Linked DNA regions of Homo sapiens: region 1 is linked to region 2. The links come from fine-mapping of genetic effects on gene expression. Tissue or cell type: whole blood. Region 2 holds a variant in brackets; the other region holds the start of a gene. All regions are shown on one strand. Distances are between the middles of the regions.

Evidence for each region. PIP is the estimated chance that this variant, and not a neighbour inherited with it, causes the effect.
Region 1: TRIM22 starts here. The variant in region 2 is fine-mapped to the expression of TRIM22 in whole blood (INTERVAL, PIP above 0.99).

The regions. Positions count from the first base shown.
Region 1 is chr11:5,688,598-5,691,216 of GRCh38, forward strand. TRIM22 (tripartite motif containing 22) reads left to right here and starts at 1,193. Exons shown (of 8, transcript NM_006074.5): 1 at 1,193-1,302. It overlaps LOC124902620 (a long non-coding RNA gene), which reads right to left. Exons shown (of 2, transcript XR_007062561.1): 1 at 2,081-2,619; 2 at 1,630-1,699. RefSeq lists enhancers at 873-1,865, 987-1,326, 1,298-2,497, 1,913-2,012.
Region 2 is chr11:5,656,384-5,659,154 of GRCh38, forward strand. All of the region lies in intron 1 of LOC107984302 (a long non-coding RNA gene), which reads right to left. It also overlaps a transcript of TRIM5 not described here. Among named protein-coding and RNA genes, the nearest start is that of TRIM5, 27 kb to the right of the region's middle. The variant T/C (reference allele first, on the strand shown) is at 1,559.

The DNA.
Region 1 (2,619 bases), 32 kb after region 2:
TGTTTTTTGTAGAGACAGGGTCTTACTATGTCACCCAGGCTGCAGTGCTATGGTGCAATGACGCAATCTTGGCTCAATGCAACCTCCACCTCCTGGGCTCAAGCCATCCTCCCATCTCAGTTTCCTGAGTAGCTGGGACTACAGGTGCACATCACCACACCCAGCTATTTTTTTTTTTTTAATTTTTCTTAGAGATGGGATTTCACCATGTTGCCCAGGCTGGTGTTGAAGTCCTGGACTCAAGTGATCCACCCACCTGGGCCTCCCAGAGTGCTGGGATTACAGGCATGAGACACCACAGGCCTCCATCAGTTTTTGATGGCATTATCTGGCACATGCAGTTAAACAAGAATACAATAGACAACAGGGTACAGAAGTATGTGCATGACGTATAACATGTTTCAGTGCTGCTTTTTAATTGATTGTGTAAAAATGACCAAACTTTTCTTAGAGAAGCAGGGAAAAGTGGAAAAATTATGAAGGCATGAGAGTAACTCAATGAATGATTATAATTAAACAGCATCATCTGTTAACTTCCATGTTCTCACCTGCCTCAGTGGCTGGGTAACATGACACTGACACAGTTTTACCTCTATTACTCTCTGGAATCCATCCTCATCTGGTCTGTCTGGATTAGGAGCAGGAAGTGATAATTAATTGATGGACTCTTAAGATTTAATGACATTTTGAGAACATTTTTTTCAATGGGCTCACACTAAAGATCCTTTTATTTATAAAAATAATTTTTTTACCATTCACAATGTCAGCTGCTAATACTCATCTTGTCAGCCCAAATTTGTAGAGCTTTATAACTGAGTATCTTCCTCGTCAGACTGCATTTCAAGAAGCTAGGTCCCAAGTCTCTGGATCTTTATTTTCCTGGCTTAGGTCTTAAATATAAGATAAATTCGACTAATAATTATAGGACTGCATTGGAATTCTAAGTATTCAGGCAAGCTGTATAACTGTAATTCACATTCTTTTTATTCAAATATTCTTGCTTGAGTAAACCACAGTAAGAATAAGGAAGTAGTGACTGAGTGCCTTGCCAGTACAGCAGATGCTAGAACATAATGTAGCATTACTTTCCCCAGGGTTTATTGTTATGTAAGTTCTTGTTCAGCTTCCTTTGTTTTCTTTCACTTCTGAGAATTTAACTTTCGTTTCTCACTCAGCTCCTGTGGGGAAACTCATTTGTGGAGACCAGCCCTCTGGCTTGGTGAGTGAATCTGGTTTACACCGGCTCCTGCCCTGCCTTCACTCTTCTCCCCTGATTCAAGACTCCTCTGCTTTGGACTGAAGGTGAGTGGAGCAATCTGTGGGAGCATAGAATGGGAGGCTTTGAGAAGAATAGATTGATTGTGTCTGGGTGAGTTTAATTTGTAGTTCTGAAGCTGCTCTGCATAAACAAAAAGAGGCAGCTTGTGAACTGTCTGCTGAGATGGCAGAGGAAGAAAGCACTGAGTCTGGGAGAGGGGTAACCTTTAAAGAAGAGAGGTTTGCAAAAGCAAAAAGCCTTGCTTGTTTCCTAGAGGGACCATTCATTTCTTCAATCTAGGTACCTCCATCACCTTCCTTGTTGGAAATAAAGCTCAGAATCTTAAGGGAGACGAGCACTCAAACAAAGGATTTCTCAGCAAAGCAATTTTATTTCTGTGCAGAGGGGTGCTTCTTCTTTGCCAGTCGCCATGAGAGCACACTAGAACAAAGGAGGAAGAAAGTTTTTATTCCTGACGCAAATCCTACCCCTTTGCCCTTTCCCCATTGGCTGGAGTCGGCCACACAATCTAAACTAGACTCAGTTGGCTAAACATTTTAACTTTCTTTAGATAAGGTGGGCACGTGAGGGAGAGAGGGGAGATGGGGAAGGGGTGTGTGTGATGAGCTAGATAACTAATCTTCTTCCAAAATAAGGAAAGGAATGTGAGTTGGTACTGATAACGCCTGGTACTGTGACATGTCTAGGCATGTAGCAAAAGCAGAAAGGAAAGAGAAGAGAAGAAAAGTGAAGTGGGGAGGGGCACTGTGAATTAAAGAATAAAGGATTGATCAGGCTATTTGAAGAGAAACCTTATCATACCCCACATTCCTATTCTGTCATTTTGATTTTTCCATTTTGCCAACGTGGATCAGAATTTTCTTTTATTCAGAGGCAGCAAATTCCTTCCTCCTTTCTCCCGAAGAAGCCTGTGCAATGAAGCTTTGTTTTCACTTTTCATAAAGCAACCTCATGATGAGGTTCAGCAGGGATGAGAGCCCTTATCTGGATCTGGGTATGAGGCGAAGGAGTCTTAGGTACTCAGTCTTCAGAAGTAAGGCCCTTTTGAAGGTTATCCTTTTACTTGCCTTCTGGTAACTTTTTGGATGCTGTCCATAGCTTTCCTGATAAATTAGCAGCCCTCTGGTTAGTCCGAGGAGAGAGGCCGCAGGACGGGCAGACTGCTGCTCATCTCTGCAGCTCCACTTTGGTCTCTTGTCTCTGAAGGTCCAGTCACAGGGAACTTGTTCTTCTGAGTACCCACAGCTTACTCTTCCTTTGTAGCAGGACCAGCCACAGAAAAAACTCCTCAGACACCGAGGTAAAGAAGGAAGGGGTTTATTCGGCCAGGGGCATAGGCA
Region 2 (2,771 bases):
TGCTCTGTTGCCCACACCAGAGTGCAGTGGTGTGATCTTGGCTTACTGCAACCTCTGCCTCCCAGGTTCAAGCAATTCTTCCTGCCTCAGCCTCCCAAGTAGCTGGGATTACAGGCATGCACCACCATGCCCGGCTAGTTTTGTATTTTTAGTAGAGATGGAGTTTCTCCATGTTGGTCAGGCTGGTCTCGAACTCCCAACCTTAGGTGATCCGCCCACCTCGGCCTCCCAAAGTACTGGGATTATAGGCGTGAGCCACTACGACAGGCCATGAACAGACACTTCTTAAAAGAAGACATTTATGCGGCCAACAAACATTTGAAAAAAAACCCATCATCACTGGTTACTAGAGAAATGCAAATCAAAACCACAATGAGATACCATCTCACTCCAGTTAGAATGGCGATCATTAAAAAGTCAGGAAACAACAGATGCTGGAGATGATGTGGAGAAATAGGAACACTTTTACACTGTAGGTGGGAGTATAAATTGGTTCGACCATTGTGGAAGATAGTGTGGCGATTCCTCAAGTATCTAGAACCAGAAATACCATTTGACACAGTAATCCCATTACTGGGTATATACTCAAAGGATTGTAAATCATTCTACTACAAAGACACATGCACACATATGTTTATTGCAGCACTATTCACAATAGCAAAGATTTGGAACCAACCCAAATGCCTATCAATGATAGACTGGATAAAGAAAATGTGGCACATATACATCATGGAATACTATGCAGCTACAAAAAAGGATGAGTTCATGTCCTTTGCAGGGACATGGATGAAGCTGGAAACCATCATTCTCAGCAAACTAACACAGGAACAGAAAACCAAACACTGCATGTTCTCACTTATAAGTGGGAGTTGAACAATGTGAACACATGGACACAGGGAGGGGAACATCACACACCAGGGCCTTCGATGGGTGGGGGACTAGGGAAGGGATCGCATTAGGATAAATACCTAATTTAGATGACAGGTTAATGGGTGCAGCAAACCACCATGGTACGTGTATACCTGTGTAACAAACCTGCACGTTCTGCACATGTATCCCAGAACTTAAAGTGTATATATATATAAAATATTTATATATAATGCATTTATATATATATTTATATATTATATATAATGCATTATATATATTATTTATATATTATATATAATGCATTTATATATATTATTTATATATTATATATAATGCATTATATATAATATATATTTATATATTATATATAATGCATTATATATATTATTTATATATTATATATAATATATATTTATAATATAATATATATATATTTATAATATAATATATATAAATATATATATATATTATATTGTATTATATTCTGGAATAGCTGGGACTACAGGCCTGCACCACCATGCCCGGCAAATTTTTGTAGTTTTAGTAGAGACAGAGTTTCACCATGTTGGCCAGGCTGGTCTCTAACTCCTGACCTCAAGTGATCTGAGAGCCTCGGCCTCCCAAAGTGCTGGGATTACAGGCCTGAGCCACCATGTCTGGCAAAATCCTTTTATTTAGAAAAATAAGT[T/C]TATTTTTCCCATTCAGAATGACAGCTGCTAATTATATGAGAGGGGTGCAGGGAAGTGCTGAAAAGAGAAAGGCACGGTCCCTGACAAAGCCTCCACTCCTGGGGCCTGGGCCCACAGACTTAGGTGAGGACAGGAATTTCCGTTTTTGTGCCCAAATGTTGCATTTTCCAAGATCACCCTGGCCTGCTATGCCCCCATCCTGTGCCTATAGCAGGAAGAGACACAAGCAACTGAATGTTAAGAGTAGCAAATTGGTAGAAGAACACACCAACAGGCACCAGCACATGCTGGAAGGCCAGCGACCAATGGACCGATGCAGAGATTGGTCGGGGATGTCAGAGGACAGCCTGGCTGCTGGGTGGCCCAACTCCAGGGAAATCCACCTTCCTACTCCATCTTCCTTCTGGCCTCTTCATCCACCTCGCTGAGAGCTACTACCACTCGATAAAAAACCTTGCACTCGTTCTCCAAGCCCACGTGTGATCCAATTTTTCTGATACGTTAAGGCAAGAACCTGGGATACAGAAAGCCCTCTGTCCTTGCAATAAGGCAGAGGGTCAGAGCAGATAAACACAAGCCACCTGCAGGCAGCAAAGAGGAAACTCCTCCAATACTGTTATATTTTTCTAAGTGTCTATTACCCTGAATATTCTGACTGCTTTTGTCACTTTCTAGTGCCTTCAGGTTTACTTGATTTTCACATTTTGTGCAAGGTTTCTAATGTTGATCTATGGGTGAGGACATGAAGTTTTGTTAGAAAGAGTACAGTGTGTGCATGTGTCTTTATAGCAGCATGATTTATAATCCTTTGGGCACATACCCAGTAATGGGATCGCTGGGTCAAATGTGGCACTATACACCATGGAATACTATGCAGCTACAAAAAAGGATGAGTTCATGTCCTTTGCAGGGACATGGATGAAGCTGGAAACCATCATTCTCAGCAAACTATCACAAGGACAGAAAACCAAACACCGCATGTTCTCACTTGTAGGTGGGAATTGAACAATGAGAACACTTGGACACAGGGCGGGGAACATCACACACTGAGGCCTGTGGTAGGGTGGGCGCCTGGGGGAGGGATAGTATTAGGAGAAATACCTAATGTAAATGACGAGTTAATGGGTGCACCAAACCAACACGGCACATGTATACATATGTAACAAACCTGCACATTGTGCACATGTACCCTAGAACTTAAAGTATAAAAAA